Homo sapiens: one gene and its partner. The protein of the gene in region 1 purifies or fractionates together with the protein of each later gene. This does not show direct contact. Each region holds a gene or a part of one and is shown in the gene's direction. Other genes may lie near its edges.

What was found. Proteins that work in one complex are often made in the same cells at the same time.
Region 2: the proteins of ANOS1 (region 1) and ZFP91 purify together in Homo sapiens (affinity purification with mass spectrometry; one large-scale study listed by BioGRID and IntAct). This does not show direct contact.

What each region holds. Positions count from the first base shown.
Region 1 is NC_000023.11:8,722,040-8,725,692, reverse strand, and holds part of ANOS1 (anosmin-1 isoform 1 precursor), read left to right. Parts: intron 1-3,653. UniProt on the Homo sapiens protein: Has a dual branch-promoting and guidance activity, which may play an important role in the patterning of mitral and tufted cell collaterals to the olfactory cortex. Chemoattractant for fetal olfactory epithelial cells.
Region 2 is NC_000011.10:58,602,910-58,606,562, forward strand, and holds part of ZFP91 (E3 ubiquitin-protein ligase ZFP91), read left to right. Parts: intron 1-3,653. UniProt on the Homo sapiens protein: Atypical E3 ubiquitin-protein ligase that mediates 'Lys-63'-linked ubiquitination of MAP3K14/NIK, leading to stabilize and activate MAP3K14/NIK. It thereby acts as an activator of the non-canonical NF-kappa-B2/NFKB2 pathway.

The sequences.
Region 1 (3,653 bases):
TATATATATATCTGTATATATATATCTGTATATATATATATCTGTATATATATCTGTATATATATATCTGTATATATATATATCTGTATATATATATCTGTATATATATATCTGTATATATGTATATCTGTATATATATATCTGTATATATATATCTGTATATATATATATATCTGTATATAATATTATTTATCCACATGTGTGTATTTGGACACCTAAATTAAAAAGGTAATATTGTTGGTGCAAGTGTTCCCACTTTTAAAAATGTAATCATAAATTTGGAGGTTATCATATTTATTCAAAATAAATTCACCACCTTTCATGTTCTCACCTACCAGGTATGTTTCAGTGAATGAGTATAAAATGTTGGGGTTAAGGTAGAGAGACTTATGAAAGTGTTAGGGGGTACTGCTTGTATTAAGTCAGAAATGGAGAAGTTCCAATGGATTACTTGGTATTGCTGTCCAGAAACCTGACTCTCATACCATTTTGGGGGGAAGAGAGGTTTGGGACAGCAATTAATGAAGCATATCCATATTATCAAAAGGCATTTTTATTTATGAAATAGGAATAGAAATAACTGAAAATGTCTCTTTGCAGTGCCTTGTGTAAAGTATAGAATAACATAATTTCTGGGCATCATCTAAGCTCACAGAGCCTTAGGGTTCTGAAGTCAGCTACCTTTCAACTTTTCCATTTAACTTACCCTGGCCTCCATATTTTGAAAGCAGGTTGTCTATCAACATATGGCGTTTATTAAGTATGACCTAGTTTTTCCTCTTTACATTAATCAAAGATAGCCATAACTCTTTCAAGCTTTAGATTAGCATTAGGTTGCCCCCATGACCAGAGCTGATTGATAAAATGAATAGTTATGACATTTTAGTTCTCTTTGCACCATCATCTTAGGAAAATGTGTCATTTTGGGGAGTTTTCTGAAATATTTTAAAAGAGGTGATATACACCAATTCCTTCTCCAGTCGATGCAGTTGTTGACCTCTTGCCTCTTACCCCACCATCCCCCGGCTCCTGTATCAGCTGCTAATAGCTTACAGCTGCTTCCTTTTAAGGGAATAACCTTTGGCCGATGGGCACCATCTTGCTTGCAAGGTCATGCATCCTCCTCCCTTGATGTGCGCAGACCATGGCGATTGGCTCTCTGCTCAGGGGATATAGGAGGTCAGCCCCCTGCTGGAATCAGCTCTGTAATGCAATTCATGCCCAAAAGCATCGCATGGGATCAGGCTTATGCAGGGCTCTGGCTGAGAGCCCATCCCCACACAGGTCTTATCTCTGCCTTCTCCTGCTTCCTCTCTTCCCTCTTCTACTGAGAGCTTTTCTCTCCGCCCCAATATTACCTCATGTCCGAGAAACCCCATTTCAACCTCTGCTTCTAGGAAACCCAGTCTAAGACACCTCCCTTCAGAAACACGTGGTTCCATTCAACACTTTTGTTTTTTCTGATCAGACAACTCGGTTCTTATAGAAATGACCTGTTCAAGCTAGTAGGTAGAATAAGTAAAAATATAAGTTAGCTTTTACACTCTCAGCTAAGACTTCATTTACTATCCTTCAAAAAATTGAGAGGGTATACAAAGTTTAAACATCATTTTAAATAAAGAAACAGATTCAGAAGATTTTCTGTTACTTGAATTTAGTTTCTAGCTCCTGATGACTTCAGTAAAAAGATTTCAATTCTTGGACCTAGTAGGTAAGCACATCATGCTCCCTCATTGTTGAGAATTCAATGAAATGTGAAAATATGCACTGTTCAGGCAAGCTTGAAATAGCTGTAGGGTAAGTGGGCAGTAGCTGGAGTGAGAGGACATCATTAACGACAGTACTACATGGCAGGTCTAGGAAGAAGGCAAGGGAGCCCCAATAGTTCAGGTATCAGCCAACATTGGATTTACTCAGCATGCAACTAGTGGAGCTACACCCCAAAAAAGCTACATCCTCCAGGACCTGCAATCCTTTGTATATTTTAAAAATGTAATTTGTGTATGGTTTCAAAGAGGTGAGGGGAGACATTTTCCCTGATGGTAAAGAGGGTTGGATAAAAATAGTTATACTTATTAGCCAATATGTAAAAAATGCCCAGAAAGGAACAAATGTAGCATTTGTAGATTGTTTTCATGTAAATCACTGTCTGCATAGGTGCTGAATCTGTTTCTTTCTTTAAAAAGTACTGATTTATTTGCATTTCCCTGATCACTAGTGATGTTGAGCATGTTTTTCATACGTTTGTTGGCCAGTTGTATATCTTCTTTTGAGAATTGTTTATTTATGTCCTTAGCCTACTTTTTGATGGGATTGCTTGTTTTTTCTTCTTGCTGATTTGTTTGAGTTCCTTGTAGATTCTGGATATTAGTTATTTGTCAGATGTATAGGTTGTGAAGATTTTCTCCCACTTTGTGGGTTGTCTGTTTACTCTGCTGACTGTTCTTTTTGCCGCGCAAAAGCTCTTCAGTTTAATTAAGTCCCACCTATTTATCTTTGTTTTTGTTGTGTTTGGTTTTGGGTATTTGGTCATGAAATCTTTGCCTAAGCCAGTGTCTCAAAGGGTTATTCCAATGTTATCTTCTAGAATTTTTATAGTTTCAGGTCTTAGATTTAAGTCCTTGATCCATCTTGAGTTGATTTTTATATAAATGAGAGACGAGGATCCAGTTTCATTCTCCTACATGTGGCTTGCCAATTATCCCAGCACCGTTTGTTGAATAGGGTGTCCTTTCCACACTTTATGTTTTTGCTTGCTTTGTCGAACCACGATGTGGTACCACCTTACTCCCGCAAGAATGGCCATTATCAAAAAATCAAAAAATAATAGATGTTGACATGGATGCAGTGAAAAGGGAACACTTCTACACCACTGGTGGGAATGTAAACTAGTAAAACAGTGTGGAGGTTCCTTAAAGAACTAAAAGTAGAACTACCATTTGATCCAGCAATCCCACTACTGGATATCTACCCAGAGAAAAATAAGTCATTATATGAAAAAAGATACTTGCACACGCAATTGCAAAAATGTGGAACCAGCCCAAATTCCCATCAATCAATGAGTGGATAAAGAAACTGTGGTGTGTATGTGTGTGTGTGTGTGTGTGTGTGTGTGTGTACACACATAATGGAGTACCACTCAGACATAAAAAGGAATGAACTGATGGTATTCGCAGCAACCTGGATGGGATTGGAGACCATTATTGTAAGTGAAGTAACTCAGGAATGGAAAACCAAACATTGTATGTTCTCACTTGTAAGTGGGAACTAAGCTATGAGGATGCAAAGTCCTAAGAGTGATACAATGGACTTTGGGGACTCCGGGGGAAAGGGTGGGAAGGGGGTGAGTGATAAAAGACTACACACTGGGTTCAGTGTATACTGCTTGGGTGATGGGTGCACCAAAATCTCACAAGTCACCACTAAAGAACTTACTTGTGTAACCAAATACCACCTGCTCCCCAAAAACCTATAGAAATGTATTTTTTTAAAAAGTACTGATTTAATAAGTTGCATTTATTTCAGCTAATATCAGTGGATTGTTACAATTCCAAAGATGAGCTAAAACCTCTGTACATGAGGAACTTAGGGTCTATTCTAGGCTAAGACTTGTTTGTAAACAGACAAGTTCAGCCCAATAGATGGAGTTTTTT
Region 2 (3,653 bases), on another chromosome or scaffold:
CGATGATTGCGGTGAGCCAAGATTGCGCCGTTGCACTCCAGCCTGGGCAACAAGAGTGAAACTCTGTCTCAAAAAAAAAGAAAAGAAAAAACAGCGTAGATTGCCTTGAAGAGATGGTCAACAGAAATATGAGTGTTAAAGGCAGTCTGATGAGGCCTTAGAAGGAAATGATGAACATGTTATTGGACAGTGGAGAAAAGGTGATCCTTGTTATAAAGTTGCAGAGAACTTGACTGAATTGTGTTCTATCATTGGGTAAGCAATGAACTTGGATATTTATCTGAGTAGATTTACAAACAACGTGTAGAAGGTATAGCCTTGTTTCTTCTTGCTTATATACTAATGTGTGAGAGGAAAGATATAAATTGAGGAATGAATTGTTTAGCAAAAAGGAGCCAGCACTTGATAATTTGAAAATTTTTTAGTCTGTCCAAATAGTGTATTGTGGTACAGGACCAAGGCTGTGACTGGACAGCTATTCTCTAAAGAGACTTGGTATATAACTTGTGGATCGAATCAGCCATCTCAGCACTTCCCAGAATAGACATGCAATTTTTCAGGAAAGATCTGTGGAGGACTCTCATTTGGTGGCTTCGACCCCCTGAATTTCATGAAAGACTGACAAAGTTTTTGAGAATGTTGTGACAGCAGAAACACTGCCAGGCTGGCCTGAATGGGACAGAGACAGAATGGAATTAAAGAAGAATGATGCTGAGGGTAGAGCTGCAAATGCTGGGTCCTGGGTGTATTAGACTTCCTGGGGCCACGATGGCAGGGCTATTTCCCCAGTGGACTCAGAGTACAAACCATTATCCACAAAAGCTTATTCTTAGGGCTTAAAGTCTAATGCTTTTCGCTAGGTTTTGGACTAACTTGGGACCCCTGACCCTTTTTCCCCCCTTCTATTTTCTTCCTTTTGATATGGAGATGTGTAATCTATAAGTGTCCCACCATTGTTTTTTGGAATCAGCTCCACAGATGGAGAAGAATTTTGCTCTAGAGTGGACCATACCCCCAGTCTCATTCATAACTGATCTAGATGATGAGATTTGATCCCTTTTGAGTTGATGATTTTTAGGTATTGTTTGGATTTAGACTTGATACTGGAATGGGTTAAGACTCTGGGAGGTTGGGATTAGGTGAATGTATTTTGCACATTGGAAGGACATAAATTTTAGGGAACCAGAAGGTACAGACTACTACGGGTTGAATTTTATCCCTCCAAAAATGTGTTGAGTCCTAGCCCTTAATACCTGTAAATATGAACTTATTTGGAAATAGGATCTTTGCAGATGTAATCAAGTTATAATGGAGTTATTCTGTATTACAATGGGCCCTAATCCACTATGACTGATGTCCTTATAAGAATAAGGACATCACACATGGGACAGGAGGAAACACCGTGTGATGATGGAGATAGAATTGAAGTTAGCAGCTATAAGCCAAGTTGTTGACCACCACCAAAAGCTAGGAAGAGGCAAGGAATGATTCTTCTCAGAGTCTGAGAGGGAGTGTGGTCTGTTATTGTGTTGATTTTGGACTTTTATCCTCCAGAAGTATGGGAGAATAGATTTCTGTTGTTTTAAGACATCCCAGTTTGTTGTGATTGGTAGAGCAGCCCTGGTAGACTAATACATTATTTCAGCTCTCTCTTGCTTACTATTCGCATGTAATATCTTAATCCATTCTTTTACTTTGAACCTGTTTGTGTCTTTGGATCTAAAGCAAACTTGTCCACTATGGCCTGCAGTCTGAATGCGGCTCAGAACGGCTTTGAATGTGTCCCAACACAAAATCGTAAACTTTCTTAACACATTATGAGTTCTTTTTTAAATTTTTTTATCTTATCAGCTATCATTAGTGTATTTTATGTGTGGCCCAAGACATGTCATCTCCTTCCAGTGTGGCCCAGGGAAGCCAAAAGATTGGACAACCAGGTCTAACGTGAGTTTCTTGTAGACAGATTGTAGATTGGTTGTATTTTTTGTTAATCCATTCTGCTAATATGTACCTTTTAATTCCACACTATATGTATGTGTAAACTACCGATAAGAATGGCCTGCCATTTTGCTTTGTGTTTTCTACCTGTCTTAATATCTTTTATTTTGATCTTTATTTTCTTTGTATTTCCTTGTGTTGCAGATATATAGCAGTGTACCATCTTCTCTTTTCATTTTCTGTATATTTTTATTTTCTTAGGGGTTACCTGGGGATTGCATTTAGTACTTTAAACTTTATCTAGTTTAATGCCAGTTTAGCTTCAGTAGTAAACATATCTCTGCTCTGTACTATTCTGTGCCTCACCATTTATGTTATTGTTGCAAAGTGTATGTTTTGATGTCAAATGCCCATTAACATAAATTTACAGTTGCTATTTTGTACATTTGTCTTTCAAATCATGTAGGGAGAAAAAGGAGTTAGAAATCAAAAGTACAATATCATATTTTTGCCTCTGTAAAATATGCCAGTGTTTTAATTTATGGCTTTAAGTGCTCTCTAGTGTCCTTTAATTTCATCTTAGAGGATTCCTGATAGCATTTTTTATAGGGCAGATCTACTAGTGATAATCTGTTTTTGATTTTCTGGTAATGTCTTAATTTCATCTTCGTTTTTAAAGAATAGTTTCGGCAGCTATAGAATTCTTGCTTGACGATTTTTTTTTTTCCTTTCATCACTTTGTTATCACACTGCCTTCTGACTTCCATGGTTTCTGATGAGCGGCTGTTAATCTTGTTGAGTATTCCTTGTTGCTTATGAGTCACTTCTTGCTGTTTTTATGGTTCTTTGTATTTGTCTTTCTACCGATTGATAATAATGTGTCTAGGTGGGGATCTCTTTCATTTATCCTACTAGGAGTTAGGTAAAGTTCTTGTTTGTACAGACTATATTCCCCAATAGTTTTTCAAATATTCTTTCTGTTCATTTTCTCCTCTCCTTCTGCAAATCTTATTATGCATCTGTTGGCATGCTTAATGGTTGTCTAAACGATCTCTTAGGCTTTATTTTCCTTTATTCTTTTTTTCTTTATATTCTTCATACTGGATCATCTCTGTTGGCCTAGCTTAAAGTTCACTGATTCTTGTTTTTCAAGTCTGCGGTGAATTTTTAATTTCAGTTATTATACTTCTCAGCTCTAGAATTTTTTTCTCTTAGTTCCTTTTTTGTGGGGGGGGTGTGGTTTCACTCTTGTCGCCTATGCTGGAGTGCAATGGTGTTATCTCGGCTCACTGCACCCTCCACCTCCTGGGTTCAAGTGATTCTCCTACCTCAGCCTCCCAAGTAGCTGAGAATACAGGGATGCGCTGCTACAAGCAGCCCAGCTAATTTTTGTATTTTTAGTAGAGACGGGGTTTTGCCATGTTGGCCAGGCTGGTCTCGAACTCCTGACCTCAGGTGATCCGCCCACCTTGGCCCTCCAGAGTGCTGGGATTACAGGTGTGAGCCACTGTACCCGGCCTCTCTTGGTTCCTTTTTATAGTTATCTTTTTATTGGTATTCTGTATTTGTCGAGACATATTTCTTCTGATTTCCTTTAGTACTTTGTCAGTGATTTTCTTTAGCTCTGATTGTCTTTAGTTCTTTAAACATTGTTTTTTACAACTTTTATTTTAGATTCGGGGGTACATGTGCAGGTTTGTTACTGGGGCATATTG